Homo sapiens: one gene and its partner. The protein of the gene in region 1 purifies or fractionates together with the protein of each later gene. This does not show direct contact. Each region holds a gene or a part of one and is shown on either strand. Other genes may lie near its edges.

Evidence for each region.
Region 2: the proteins of SOAT1 (region 1) and CARNMT1 purify together in Homo sapiens (affinity purification with mass spectrometry; 2 studies listed by BioGRID and IntAct, with this or other methods). This does not show direct contact.

What each region holds. Positions count from the first base shown.
Region 1 is NC_000001.11:179,288,937-179,297,231, forward strand, and holds the start of SOAT1 (sterol O-acyltransferase 1), read left to right. Parts: upstream 1-4,860; 5' UTR 4,861-5,000; exon of another isoform or gene 5,001-5,465; intron 5,466-8,295.
Region 2 is NC_000009.12:75,025,014-75,032,726, reverse strand, and holds the start of CARNMT1 (carnosine N-methyltransferase), read left to right. Parts: upstream 1-4,433; 5' UTR 4,434-4,485; coding exon 4,486-4,715; intron 4,716-5,575; exon of another isoform or gene 5,576-5,674; intron 5,675-7,713.

The DNA of each region.
Region 1 (8,295 bases):
GGGAGGCAGAGGTTGCAGTGAGTCAAGATTTGCACCCTCGCCTGGGTGACAGAGTGAGGCCCTGTCTACACCCCACTCCCATCAAAAACAAAAAGAGTATGGCTCAGAATGTCTCAACATGGTCTACAAACTTTTTAAGTCCTGACACTGGCTTTACCTCTGGCCCCTTTAACAATACTCACGACTTCCTTCATGTCTCCTGGATGGTTCTGGCTCCTTATTGCCTTGTGGCCTTTGACCTTGATTTTTTTTTCCTTTGTTTGGAATGTTCCTCCTCCCTACCCTGATGACAAAACTCCTCCTACTGGTTCAGAAAACTGGGCTCAGTTAGCCTTCTTCCATTCTCCCTTCCCTCTCCTCCAACCGCCAGCTGTGATCATCATTAACCTGCTCCCACTGTATTCAGAAGATAATAACATAAACAATAATAATAGCAGTTAGCCAAGCCTGGTGGCTCACACCTTTAATCACAGCTACACAGGAGGCTGTGGCAGGAGAACAGTTTGAGTCCAGAAGTTTGAGGCTGCAGTGAGCTACGATCATGCCATTGCACTCCAGCCTGTGTGACAGAGCAAGAAACCTGTCTCCAAAAATAAGAATAAAAATAAAATAACAAAAACCATTAATATTGGTTGAGCACTTCTATATACCAGTGTCTATATGTGAAGCTTTGAAGGCATTAACCAATTTAATCCACACAATGACCCTGTTGGGTAAACACATTTTTTTTTTTTTTGAGACAGAGTCTCCCTCTGTCACCCAGGCTGGAGTGCGGTGGCGCGATCTCTGCTCACTGCAACCTCCACGTCCCGGGTTCAAGCGATTCTCCTGCATCAGCTGCCTGAGTAGCTGGGATTACAGGTGTGCGCGTGGCGCCCGGCTAATTTTTTTTTTTGTATTTTTAGTAGAGATGGGATTTCAGCAAGTTGGTCAGGCTGGTCTCAAACTCCTGACCTGGTGATCTGCCCCCCCTCAGCCTCCCAAAGTGCTGGGATTACAGGGGTGAGCCACTGCGCCCAGCCTTTTTTTCGAGACAGAGTTTCGCTCTGTCACCCAGGCTGGAGTGCAGTGGCGCAATCTCGGCTCACTGCAACCTCTACTTCCCGGGTTCAAGCGATTCTCCTGCCTCAGCCTCCCAAGTAGCTGGGATTATAGGTGCCTGCCACCACACCCAGCTAATTTTTTGTATTTTTAGTAGAGATGGGGTTTTGCCATGTTGGCCAGGCTGGTCTCGAACTCATGGCCTCAAGTGATCTGCCCACCTCGGCCTCCCAAAGTGCTGGGATTACAGGCATGAGCCACTGTAAAGAATTTTTTTTAACATCTTTTTCTTTTTTTCTTTTTGAGAGGGAGTCTTGCTCTGTTGCCCAGGATGGAGTGCAGTGGCGCGATCTCGGCTCACTGCAACCTCTGCCTCCCAGGTTCAAGAGATTCTCCTGCCTCAGCCTCCCAAGTAGCTAGGATTATAGGCGCCTGCCACCACACCCGGCTAATTTTTTGTATTTTTAGTAGAGACAGGTTTTCACCATGTTGGCCAAGCTGGTCTCGAACTCCTGACCTCAGGTGATCCGCCCACCTTGGCCTCCCAAAGTGCTGAGATTACAGGTGTGAGCGACCACGCCTGGCCTTTAACATCCTTTTATTGTAACACTTATCTCATTGTTTTGAAATGGCTTATACCTATTAGTGTCTCCAATAGACAGTCTTATTCATATTCTTAGCACTAGCAACTATACAAGTTCTGTACACCTGTTTTTTTTTCAATATGATGAAGTCAACACTTGCATTTAACCAAACCTTGATTTCCAAGGATTGAGTAATGTGAGATTTTCAGTGCAGTGGTGGGAGAGGCTTGGAGTCTGAGCACAGGCTTTGGAGTCCCTCCAATCATATATCATCTTTGCCCTTGCACTAAATGGTATCCCCATCCTCTCAATTGCTTAAGGAAACAACCTGGGAGTCATCTCGTTTACTACCTTTCTTCACACCTGCACCTCGGGAAAATATCCTGAAATCTTTCAATTTCTATTTCCACACCAACCAGCCTAGTCCAGGTACCACCATCTACCCCCTGAACTTGCCCAATAACTTTGTATTGTTCTTCGGCTCCTTTTTGTTCCATTGCTGCTCCCTTCAAGTCATTCTCTATAAAATAGGTTGATTTAAAAAAAAAAATAAACCAATGGCCGGGCACGTGGCTCATGCCTGTAATCCCAGCAGTTTGGGAGGCTGAGGCGGGAGGATCACTTGAGCCCAGGAGTTCAGGACCAGCCTGGGCAACACAGCGAAACCCTGTCTCTACAAAAAATACAAAAATTAGTCTGGTGTGGTGACGCCCACCTGTAGTCCCAGGTACTAGGGAGGCTGAGGTGGGAAGATGACTTAGCGAGCCTGGGGAGGTAGAGGATGCAGTGAGCCCTGATTGCACCACTGCACTCCAGCCTGGGCGACAGAGTGAGACCCCATCTCAAAACAACAAAAACCCAAACCCTTCATTATCTTGCCTTTGCACTTAACAGATAAATCCAAACAACGTGATTAGGTTCCTGCTTAATGCTCCAAACTCAACTTCAAACCCCTATTTGACATGCTCAAGCCTCCTGGCCTGTTCCTCAAACAGCCACGCTTCAGCATCAGCCACAGTTCAGCATCGGGGCCTTGACACCCATTATCCTCTGTCTAGAATGTTCTTCCTCCCCATGGTTGGCTTGGCTGGCTCCTTCTTGTCATTTAGGTCTTAGCTCCTGAATTATCTCCTCAGAAAATCCTTCCCTGACCATTCTGTTTTGTTTTCTGCTCAGTACTTATCACTGCCAGTGATTATCTCATCTATTCGTTTTATTATTTATATTCTTCATTAGAAACATAAGCTTTTGTTGTTTGAGACAGAGTCCCACTGTGTTGACCAGGCTGCAGTGCAGTGGCATGATTTTTTGGCTCACTGCATCCTCCGTCCCTCACCCCCCATCCCCCACCACAAGCAATCCTCTTATCTCAGCCTCCCGAGTAGCTGGGACCATAGGGGCCTGCCACAATTCCCAGCAAATTTTGTTGTCATTGTTGTTGTTGTTGTTGTTGTTTTTAAATTCTGTAGAGAGGGAGTCTCACTATGTTGCTCAGGCTGGTCTTGGACTCCTGGCCTCAAAGTGATCCTCCTGCCTCAGCCTCCCAAAGTGCTGGGATTATAGGCTTGAGCCACCTGTTTGTTTCCTTTCATACCTAGTCCTGCAGAACATAAGCCTCTAAGTGCAGGGGCTTCTTCTGTTTATTCACCACTGTATTTCTAGCACCAAGAATACTATCAATATTTTTTGAATGAATGAATCAAACAGTGAAAAGGCCAGTCATCTTGGTGTATATAGAAGGTAGCCAACAGAGACCCAATAGAAATGAGTGCCTATGTTCCTACTGCTCTATAACTAGTGGGAGTGGGGAGGGGAAGCAGCTGGGGGTCTACCAGACCCTGTCACCAACTAGTCAGCACACGTGGCAATCACAGTTGTAGAAGAGGCCAAACGGAGCAGATCTGCCAATGACAGCCAGTACTAAACTCGACTGGATGCTGAGGGCCATTTCTGCTTTGAGTGAACAGTGCAGCCTGCTGGGTGGCCAAGGGAACGTGTACAAATCCACTTTGTTTAAAGGACCCAGAGAGTAGTCAGTTCTGCTAAACCTCATCTGTTTGTTCAGGGATTTTTGTCCTGGGGAGGAGTGGGGAAGAAGCGATTAGTCAGGCCAGGCTAGCTGGTATTAGTTTGCAGGCTGTGAGTGCGACTCTTCAGTCTCTGCTCCTCTCATCATTGCCTTTTCACCTACCTTTACCCTAAATTTACGTACACCTCTGCCTTCACAAATTCCAAGCGATTAACTGTTGTATTTAATCTCTGTCCCAAATCTCTCTGCATCATTCTTCTTTTGATTATGAAGTCACGAGGGCCCTTTGTTTATTTTATTTTTAAAACTTTTTTTGAGAAGGAGTTTAGCTCTTATTGCCCAGGCTGGAGTGCAATGGCACAATCTAGGCTCACTGCAACCTCTGGCTTCCGGGTTCAAGCAATCCTCCTGCCTCAGCCTCCCGAATAGCTGGGATTACAGGCGCGCGCCACCAAGCCCGGCTAATTTTTTGTATTTAGTAGAGACGGGGTTTCACCATGTTGGTCAGGCTGGTCTCGATCCTAACCTCAGGTGACCCAGCCACCTCGGTCTCCCAAAGTGTTGGGATTACAGGCGTGAGCCACCGCACCTGGCCTCAAGGGCCCTTAAATATTACTTAGTTGTTCCATTATTTGGTGTGTTTTATTATTTGGTGCAGGTTTTTTCCCCTTATCTAGTTTGAATGTTGCTGAAGGACGCTGGTTTTCAAACGGTAAGGAATCTCCTGATAAAGGCACGAATCTTGGTGTGCAGATAAGCCAGCGATTCTTGCTTCTGGCTAGTTCTACGTTGTTCCTGGATGGTCAGTTCAAACTGCAATGATCCACAGCTCCAGAAGCGGCTTCTTCCAGTCGGCCTAGGAGCCAAACGCCCCTGCAGCTCCATGCTACCACGCAGGGTGCCGTTTCGGGCTTGCAGGGAGTTGTCGCAGTCCCGTTTTGGCTGCACATTCTACTGCTGGGGTGGAAGTGTCAAGCAAGATGTTGTCGCCGGTATCATGATGTCCGGGTGAGAAGCTTCCTTGGCAGGTTGCCAGGGCCAGCCTGCGAGCACTGGCGCCGGGGACCCGCGCGCCCGGGAAGGGGCGGGGAGGTGGGCGGAGCCTGGCAACCTGGGGACCACCAATAGGATGCTCAGCCGGAGGTGGCCCTGCGCGTGACGCAGCGGTGCTCGGAGGCAGGGGGCGTAGGGGCCGGGCTGTCCGGCGCTTTAGCTTAGCAGGCGACGTTGCGGGCCCTGGGCGCCAGGAGAGCTTCCCGGAGTCGACCTTCCTGCTGGCTGCTCTGTGACCGCTTCCCGGCTCTGCCCTCTTGGCCGAAGTGCCCGCTGCCGGGCGCGGGCCTCAGGTAACGGTGGTGCTCCCGCGCCTCTCCTCGCTTCCCGCTTGGGTCCACCGGCCTCAGCCCGCGGGGAAGGGAGAAGCGGTGGCGGCAGCAGCTCCGGCCCGGCCTTGTCCTGGGCTGTGCTGCGGAGAAGGCGAGGCTCGGCGACTGCAGGGGAGTTGGGGAGGGGAGGGCGGGAAAGTTACCGTCAGGCGCCCGGGTCACGGGCAGCCTTTTAAACCCTGCACGCTGGTTTGGTGTTCCGCAAATCTCGTGGCATCTCTCAAGTCAGTAGTAAAGAAAGTTAGGAATTAGAAGACGTTTTATTCTTTAAAAAGCGAAACCAAAAATGCACTCAGGAAGTCAGCTTTTTAATGATTTAGAGAAAATGTGTGAAGGGAAGGATGGTATTAGCAAGACATGAAAATCTGTAGGGGCACCAGAACCTTTAATCAAGCTCATGTTTTATTGTAAAATATTAGGATGTAGGTAAGTTTCTGTTTTCCCTAAGTGTTAATGGTCATGTAATTTAAATAATATGTATATTGAAAGGTTATTTCTAAGTGAGAAACAACTATATAAACTTTATTCTCCGTATATATATTTAGGTTAAGTTCGTTGGTCACTTTTGTTTGTTTGAGACGGAGTCTCGCTGTGTCGCAAGGCTGGAGTGCAGTGGCGCAATCTCGGCTCACTGCAACCTCTGCCTCCCGGGTTCAAGCGATTCTTGTGCCTCAGCCTCCTGAGTAGCTGGGATTACAGGCGTGCGCCACCACGCCCAGGTAATTTTTGTAGTTTTAGTAGAGACGGGGTTTCACCATGTTGGACCAGGTTGGTCTCAAACTCCTGACCTCAAGTGATCCGCCCGCTTCGGCCTCCCAAAGTGCTGGGATTACAGGCGTGAGCCACCGCGCCTGGCCTGTTGGTCACTTTTTAATATTTAAGTGGCTGCCACCTGTTTAAACCACTTTTTTCTTTTTTTCAGCCTGCTTGATTTCCTCTTCCTTGAAGTAGAATTCAATTTGAAGCTTTTTTTTTTTCTTTTTAAAAGTTGGGCGGTGTCAGTGAATGACTTGTTAAGGAAGTCTGTGCGTTGTCTGGGTGTGAGAATGGGTTTTGGAAGGAGCTCTGTGGCACTGAATTATCGTTTAGAAATGCACGTGTTTTAGTGAATCACATGCTTAGAATGCATCTGAGGTTTCGCAGTCTTTTAGGATAAAGACCTACTGAGTGAGCACACTCTATCTCTGGTTCATTTGGCCCACTTTCCTTCTGGCTTTCCAGGTTCATGCCACACTGGCTTTATTTTTGTTACTGGAAAGCTTCATTTTCTTTCCTCTCTTGGCTTTTAGGAGTTTCCTCCACCTCTAATGCTGTATTCTCTCCCTCCCTCCAACTCTTATACCTGCCTCAGATATCAGCCCACATATCACTTCCTCTGGAAATCACCCCATCCCCATTAAGCCCTCCATGAACTCTTTATTCTCCTTAGCAGAAGTTGATCATTAATTGTAATGAATTAGTTGCTTTGTTTCCTCTGCTAGTGCATTTCATGAAGGCTGGTTTAGCCTGTTGTAATTTTCAGGGTCTGGTCCAGCACTTGGCCCAGAGAAAGAATGAATAAGTTGGTGGACAGAGGAAGGAACTTTTGAATGAGAAATACAGTGATCCCCACTTAACTGCTTTCTGTAGTTTCAGCTACCTGAGGTGCGAAACAGAGTACAATAAGACATTTCGAGAGATACCATGTTCAAGTGAATTTTAATACAGTATATTGTTAATCTCTTACTGTGCCTAACTTTTTGAAACTTTGCCTCCCAGGTTCAAGGGATATTCATGCCCCAGCCTCCCAAGTAGCTGGGATTACAGGCGTGTCCCAGTACGCCCGGCTAATTTTTTTTTTTTTTTTTGAGATGGAGTTTGGCGCTTGTTGCCCAGGCTGGAATGGCACGATCTCGGCTCCCCGCAACCTCCGCCTCCCGGGTTCAAGCGATTCTCCGCCTCAGCCTCCCAAGTAGCTGGGATTACGGGCATGTGCTACCACGCCCGGCTAATTTTTTTTTTTTTTTTTTTTTTTTTTTTTTTTTTTAGTAAAGACTGATCAGATCTTACTGGTCAGGCTGGTCTCGAACTTCCAACCTCAGGTGATCCACCCGCCTCAGCCTCCCAAAGTGCTGGGATTACAGGCGTGAGCCACCGCGCCCAGCTCACCCGGCTAATTTTTGTATTTTTAGTAGAGACAGGGAGGGTTTCACTGTGTTGGCCAGACTGGTCTCAAACTCCTGATCTCAGATGATCGGTCTGCCTCGGCCTCCCAAAGAGGTGGGATTACAGGCGTGAGCCACTGTGCCCAGCCTGTAAATGAAACTTTATAATAGGTATGTATAGGAAAAAACAACGTGTATTGGGTTCACTGTTATTCACAGTTCTAGGCATCCACTGGGAGTCTTGGACCGTATCCCCCATGGATATGGGAGAACTACTGTATTAACCAGGGAAGAGTCCCTTTTTCCTATGGGAAAAAGTTTTTAACAAAGACCAGCCAAGTTCTATTTTTCTAAGAGGATGGCTTTGTTTTGCATTTTTTTTGCCACATTGGTTAATAAGAGATTATACTAACCATACAGATGTAAATGAGAATTTGTTCTTGTTCTTTAGTTTTGCTAATTACTTAAAGACCTAGTTCTGTGATATGTAAAAGTTGTAGCGTTGTGTTAGGGCCAACCTTTGGGTGCCAGAGGGAAATTTTTTTTGCTCTGGATTGTAAATTCTATCCACAGTTGTGTCCCCTTTCCACCACTGAATCTAAGGGTGATGTGGCAAAGTTCTTTACCTGGAGTAGGCACTCAGTATTTGTGATACAGATTTATGGGCTCTTTTGAAAGCTGTATTAATGGGAACACGGAGGCAGGCTAAAGTTGACATGTCTTTCCAAGTTCATTTGTTTCTCAAATCATTTCTTTTTGTTTTGCTTTCTTAAGATAAGTTAGATGCTTATCACACTGAACATTATGTAATTGCGTGCACAGATTAGATTCTTAAGAAATTCTTTTTCAATCAGTGTGTTGTATAAATAGCTGTCTACTTAGCTTTGTTACCTGGGGGGGAATAGCTTTATGTTACCTGTGACTTTGAACAAGTTTGTTAGCATTTCTGAATCTCCTGCATCTTTAAAAATGGACATGTTAAATGAGATATGTGCTACACCTACTGCACTCAGCACTTTGTTACCTGCTTCCTAAACGCTAGAGATTCCTTCACTGCTAGACCTCTTGAGAGACTAGTCTTATGATCACTGTTTTCACTTCCTCAACTTACT
Region 2 (7,713 bases), on another chromosome or scaffold:
AAAATAAAGTAAAATAAATACAATCATACAGTATGTAACCCTTTGAGATTGCCCTTTTTTCCATTCAGCATAATCCCTTTGAGATTCTTCCAAATTATTACATATATCAAGAGTTCATTACTTTGTATTGCTGAGTAGCTACAGTTTGTTTAACCATTCATCTGCTGAAGGACATTTGGGTTGTTTTCAATTTCTGGCTTTTACAAATAAAGCTGCTATGAACTTTTATGTACAGGTTTTTGTGTGTACATGTTTTCATTTATCTGAGATAAATGTCTAAGAGCGTAATTGCTGGGTTGTATGGTAAGTGCACGTTCAGTTTTGTAAAAAAAAATCACTATACTCTTTGCATGACAGTTCCCAGTGGCCTTGGACTGATCAACTTCTCCCCAGTTTCTCACTTGTATTAATAGTTCTCAAGAATAACTGTAGAATGTGCTAGGAATGCAATATCCTGAGATAAGGAGGGACTGGCTGAAACAGCCCAGGCTCTGTTCCAGTCCCTCCTAGAAACAGGATGTCCTTCATCATTTTAGCCCAACATGTCATGTTGCCTCCAGAATATAAAACCCAAGATGGTCTGCTTTCCAGGGTCACTCAGCTGTGGTACAAATGGGGTACACACAAATGAGACTCCATCCTTCCGGGGCAACTTTCCTGAGTCTCGGGAGATTGGCTCACAGTGAATCCTATGCTTCGGTTTTCCCTTGTTGCCTAGCTGTAAATAATAAATTCACTTCATGTAACTTGTACACATGGGTGTTCTGTCTCACCAGACTCAGTTGGTAACCAGTGCACAGCAAACCTGCTTTGCACTCTTTTCCAGAGTGGCTGCACCGTGTTACATTTCCAGCAGCAGTGTGCAAATGTATGTAAGCAGTTTAAGTGCTTAACCAACAGTTCTTCAGAATAACTAACAAAAGCACGATGGTGCTTTTTACTTATTAATTCCTGGAGATTAATTGGTCTCCTTCTGATAAAAACATTCCAAATCTTTCAGCTCAAATCACTCTATGGTTTGGGAAGATATCAGTGGAAGAAACTCACTGCAAAGAAGTTAAGTCAAAGAAGTCCTAAGAAAAGTGTTTTAAAACAAGGCTAAAACTTTATTCTAAAGACAACTGAGAGTAGGGAAGGTAACTAAGATTTATTGAGCCTATATACCAGGCATTTTTCAGTCTTTATCTCATGTATTCCTCCCAATGACCCTGTAAAAAGGGTAATATGTCTATTTCATAAATATTACAATTGCCGAGCTTGGTGGCCCATGCCTGTAATCCTAGTACTTTGGAGGCCAAGGCAGAAATATCGCTTGAGCTCAGGAGTTCAAGATCAGCCTGGGCAAAATAATGAGACCTCATCTCTATTAAAAATTTAAAAAAACATTAGCTAGGAGTGGTGGCGCATGCCTGTTGTCCCAGCTACTCAGGAGGCTGAGGTGGGAGGATCACGTAAGGCCAGGAGGTCAAGGCTTCAGTAAGCCATGATCACATCACTGCCCTCCAGCCTGGGTGACAGAGCCAGACTCTGTACCCCACCCCACTCAAAAAAAAGTAAGAAAGAAAAGAAAAAGAAATATAAGAAATATTGCAATTGAAGCTTTACATAATGTTTCATACAGGTTATGGAATTACTAGGTGGTGAAGTGAGAGTGAGAGGCCCATACTTGTAGCTTCTGCTGCCTTCAGCTCAGGGCAAAGAAACATAGAAGGCAATCAACATGTTTGTTGAAAAAAAAAAAGAATAAATGAATGAGTGACTTAACTTCAGCTCTGCTATTTATGTGTCCCTGGGCAGGAAAATTAATTTCTTTGAGTCTATTTCTTCATTTCTTATAGCAAGATAATAATGACATCTAGTTCACAGAGCTAAGGGACAAATAAGGTGATAAACTGGGAAAACAATTTGAAAAATATTAATTAAACAAATGTTAGCTAGCATAATATTTAAAAAGTACAGTCACAGTCATAAACAAATATTGATAAATATAGGTATGAGAGGAGGGTGGGTGTATGAAGATCACTTAATATCTCTGATTCCCTGGTTTCCTCACCTGTAAGATCACAACTGAGTTTAAAGCTGAGCACCTTCATGACACAGACTCTAAGACTCACCAAGTTAGGAGACAGAGTCAAGGAAGCCTCTGCACATAACTTTAATTTGAAAATGTTTATTCTACCTCCGAGGATATTTCAAAGTATGGAGCTGATTATCTTTATCCATGACATTCTGGCCTTTATCAATTAGGTCATTCAGACCTATATCAATACATTTAATGAATTACAACATGTAAAACTTCTGTGCATGTGTACATGAGAACAGTATTAGAAACAGCTACTACTATGAGTGTTTATACATAACTTCCGAACAATTAGTGTTTGGAAAAATAGACATTAGATAGAAAATCTGGAAGAATGGGCAAGGAATTGGTATATTGTGTCTGGAGAGGAACATAGCTGGCTAGGGACAGGTAAAACAATTATTCACACTTGGCCGAGCGTGGCGGCTCACGCCTGTAATCCCAGCACTTTGGGAGGCCCAGGCAGGTGGATTGCCTGAGTTCAGGGAGACTAACCTGCGCAACATGGTGAAATCCCGTCTCTACTTTAGTATTTTCAAATACAAAAAATTAGCCAGGTGTGGTGGCGCATGCCTGTAATCCCAGCTACTCGGGATGCTGAGGCAGGAGAATCGCTTGAGCCTGGAAGGCCGGGAGGTTGCAGTGAGCTGAGATCGTGCCACTGCACTCCAGCCTGGGCAGCAGAGCGAGACTGTCTCCAATTCATATTTGTAATCCTTTGCACTTTCTTTTTGAATTTTGAAACATGTATTACTGCATTACTATTAATAGACTCACGTTTTAGAAAACTTTTATATAAAAATGTTGTCATTTTAAGCATTACCTTTATTTCAACTATTAATTTAAATTATGAAAATATGAAGCCACTTCACTTTCAATATGGTTGTAACTTTTTAACAGACTTTGTGGTCACTGGGCATATTTAACCCCTCGAATAAAGCAATCTTTCCCTTTTATCATTACTTTGTAAGACTCATTTGCTGGGTGGTGGATTAAATTGAACAGAATAAGTTATTTCTTTTTCTTTTCTTTTTTTTTTTTTTTTGAGACGCTGTCTCGCTCTGTCGCCCAGGCTGGATGGCACGATCTCGGCTCACTGCAAGCTCCGCCTCCCGGGTTCACGCCATTCTCCTGCCTCAGTCTCCAGAGCAGCTGCGACTACAGGCGCCAGCCACCAAGCCCGGCTAATTTTTTGTGTTTTTAGTAGAGACGGGGTTTCACCATGTAAGCCAGGATGGTCTTGATCTCCTGACCTCGTCATCCGCCCACCTAGGCCTTCCAAAGTGCTGGGATTACAAGCGTGATTCACCGCGCCCGGCCCCAGAATAAGTTATTTCCCAAGAGCCACCCTTAGATGCTGGTAGGTGTAATGGTCTTCCCAAGACCAGGTGCTGGATAGAAGGTCCTTGCATTTTCCTCATCTGTTGCCATCCTCAGTAAAGGAGGAATTAGGACTGCCGCAAGCCCCTAAAGACTGGAAAGATGGGACGGGCGCGATGGCTCACGCCTGTAATCCCAGCAATTTGGGAGGCCGAGGAGGGTGGATCGCCTGAGGCCAGGAATTCCAGACCAGCCTGGCCAACATGGTGAAACCCCATCTCTACTAAAAATACTAAAATTAGCCGGGCGTGGTGGCGCGCGCCTGTAATCCCAGCCACTCGGGAGGCAGAAGCAGGAGAATCGCTTGAACCCAGGAAGCAGAGGTTGCAATGAGCCGAGATCGCACCACTGCACTCCAGCCTGGGCGACAGAGTGGGGAAAAAAAAAAAAGTGAAAAGATGATGGCGCCCACTTCCGACCCCCTTAAGTAATTAAAAATAGGAATTCATTTAGGAAGTGAATTAAAACTTAAATTAGGGTGGATACAAGACGTTCCTTCTAGACTTTCTGAAATAAAAATTCCGAATAAAATCATCAAAGCCGAACTTTTCCTTTTTGCCTTTCCCTTCTTTGCTAGTGCCTGGGACCGCGTTCAGCCTCCAGCTCAACAATCCGGCACTCGCCGGCTTTTAAGTCCCACCCACGCGGCCGCGCACAGGTAACGGCAGTGCCAGTCCCACCCCACCTACGAGCTCCTCCTCCGCCTCCCACCAAGGGGCCTTGGCCCCGCCCTTGGAAGCGTGGTTGTGACGTCAGCGCGCTGTCTCCGAAGCCCGGCAGCAAATGAGCGCAGACCGCACGGGCCCTCCGCGTACCAAGGCACACGCATGCGCATTGGTTCTGGGAGCCCTGAAGACCTGGCGGAGCCCAGCGCGGATGGAGGCCTGAGGGTGGCGGGGGCGGAGCGCGCCGCGAGCTGGGGGCATGTCCGCGGCGGGCGCCGTCTAGAGGAAGGCCAAGCAGCCGCCACCACGCTGTCGGTCGCGGAGAGACGCAAGCGAGCCAGGCCGAGGGCCGCGGCGGCGATGCAGCGACGGCGTCGCCCTCCGCCGCCCACCTCCCGGCTGCCCGAGGGCTGCGGGGGAGGAGGCGGTGGCAGCGAGGAGGTGGAAGTGCAGTTTTCCGCCGGGCGTTGGGGCTCGGCCGCGGCGGTTTCGGCGGCAGCGGCGGCGGCCACGCGCAGCACCGAGGAGGAGGAGGAGAGGCTTGAGCGTGAGCACTTCTGGAAGATCATTAATGCCTTCCGCTACTACGGGTAAGGAGCCCGTGGCGGACCCCGGCCCAGACCGTCGGGGCGCCCACTGGTGGCGGCGGACCCGCCGGAACGGGGGCGCTCGCCGTCCCGCCGCCACGCCTCCGAGGCGTCGGGACCCGGCTGCTGCAGCTGACCTCCGGGCCCCGAGTCACCTCGCACCACCCCAGCCCCTCCCGGCCCTGCACACCCGCGTGTCCGCCGCGCCGTCTGCTGCACAGCCTCGTGTCTTCTGACCTCAGGATCAGATTAGCTCTCCTGCCTCCGTCCTCGTAAAGGTTTGGCTTTGAGGCCGATGGGGGTGACCAGAGAAGCGCTGTAACAATTTCAGATAGAAGACGATGGTGGTACAATCGTCCACTGCTGGGCTGATTGGTGTGTGTGGTCGATGTCCTCCAAACTGAACACACGGAGAGCCCAAGTTCACCTACGCGTGGGATGCTGTAGGACGTATTTTCCCAAACTGTTACCAGTGCTTGTAAGAGCAGTTTAAGATTTCCACCCACCCCTCTTTGGCGCTGTGAACGCACTTGCACTTTTGTGTGAGCGATTGAATGATGCTGCTCAGTGTCTTTAACTGGTGGGTGATTAAGGGCGGAAGTGGTCCGGATATTCTAAAATTTGCTAATTATTAGGAGAGATGAGAGAAGTCACAATAAGAGCTGCCTTTACGTTCTTTTTTTCTGCAAATCTGTATCTAATTCTCCCTGGTGTGCTAGGCACTGTGGTAGGACCTTTATGCTCCTCATTCATAAAAACAGCTCCCTAACTTCCACGTTTCTTCTAGATAGATGTTAAAGTAGCTTAATCACAAAATTATAATTCCAAGAGCTGAAAGGGACTTAAATCAACTGGATTTTCAGGTGAAGATAACACTTTTATTCACGTAAGAGATATGAGTCCACCGGTGACTATGTTCTGAGGCTGCAGTTGGAATCAGACAGACATGACCTCCTACGCAGGTAAACCTGTTCCCATAGGTGGGTTCCTGCTGTGCTTTATGCAAAGTTTTTTTATATTGTTCATCTTATGTATTATAGTTGTTTTTATAAATCTCTTGCTTTGCTGTGACCTCCTCAAGGGCAGGGGCTGAGTCTTTTTTATTTTTATGTCACTAGTGCTTGGCATATGTTGTTTAAGCTCTATTTTTAACAAAACAAATAGTAGCAAAGAAATACATTTCTCATTCCCAAATAGTCTGTCAAGTTTTTGACTGATAGTTAAATTAGTTTACTAGTCTGAATTTAGAAGCTTGCTTAGTGAAAGCTTAAAGTTATTTGGAATCTGATTGTATATGTGATAGGAACTTTTGAACTTCGAAGATCTTGATGAAATAATTTACTGATTAAACCCAGAAATAGGGACCAGGGACAGCATTACTTTACGGAGCCCAAAAGAGAAGTTTGGATATTTTATTTCTCCAGGTTTAGTAGTAACAGAGGGAGCAAGGCGTCAGACCATCAGAGAATTGAATTTGATGCAGGAATTGTGACGGAAAGAACCATAAAGTTAGGAAAGGCAGCTAACATCAGATAGCTAAGAGTGGGAGATACAGAAAAGTCTGGTACATTTTGCTCTTGAAAAATCTAGAAAGAATATTGGGAAATGTCTTGGGAATATGGTGGACCCATTTAGTTAAGTGCGTAGTTGTACTTACTTTTAATATATTAGGACCAATTTAAAATTGATATTTATGGGTAAGTATGGGATGGGACTTTGTTGGGGTAGGGGTTGATCAGGAACTGAAGTGTGGCAATATAGAGAAGAGATCTTGTGTGAATATTCTAGTGGTTGTGATACTATTTCCTATACTCTCTTCTTTACCAGCGTAATGTTGGATTCAGGACATTTCATTTTTTAAAAAAAACAGTTTTTATTTGTATATACTCTCTTGAAACACTTCAAATACTTGGGCTGAAAATAGTATAACATCAAAAATATGCTTTTTAAAATGTCACTTAAAGCCTAGGGGTACAGAAAGTTTATGTAGCAGAGAACAGTGGATTGTTACATTCTAATATTTTGTGATCTTCTAGACTTAAACTGTAGCCACTAATCATATCTGGATAAATTTAAGCTAAAATTAATTAGTATTTAATAAGCTTTAAAATTTAGTTGCTCAGTTTCACTACCCATATTTCAGGTGCTCAATAGCTACATGTGGCTAGAGTCTGCTGTACTGGACAGTGCAAATAAAAGCTTTTCCATTATCGAAGTAGGTTGTGATGGACAATCCGGTTCTACACATTTAGCAAGTACAGTTGACCCTTAAACAATATGGATCTGAACTGCACGGGTCCACTTATACACAAATTTTTTGAAATAAACATATTGGAAAATTGTTTTGACATTTGCAACAATTTGAAAAACTTAGCAAACTTGCATAGCCTAGAAATAGTGAAAAAATTAAGAAAAAATTATGCCATGAATGCATATGTGTAGATACTAGTTTATCATTTACTACCATAAAATATACACAAATCTATTATAAAAAGTTAAAATTTATCAAAACTTACACAAACACAGATCTTACATGGAGCTATTTGCAATTGAGATAAATGTAAACAAGCAAAGATGTAGCATTAAATCTTAGTTGCATAAAATTATCTGTAGTAGATACTGTACTACTGTAATAATTTTGTAGCCACTTCCTGTTGCTTTTGCAGTAAGCTCAGATGTTACCAGTATCTTCTTAAAATAATCACTCTGCTTTTGTCTGTCAAGTAAATTGCATATAGCAGTAAACAGATTTCATCAAATTTAATGCAATACCATAAACCTTAAATAACACCATGGGTCCCATATGACGTGCCACTGGTGATGCTGCAGGTGCTCCCAAGAAGCAGAGAAAAAAGACATTACAAGAAAAAGTTGATTTGTTTGATATGTACTGTAGATAGAGGTCTGCAGTTGGAGGTTGCCCCCCAACCCCATTTCAGACAGAGGATTCATCTTGTAATCAAATTATGTAAACTTATAGTATTGATAAATGCAGTGCAGT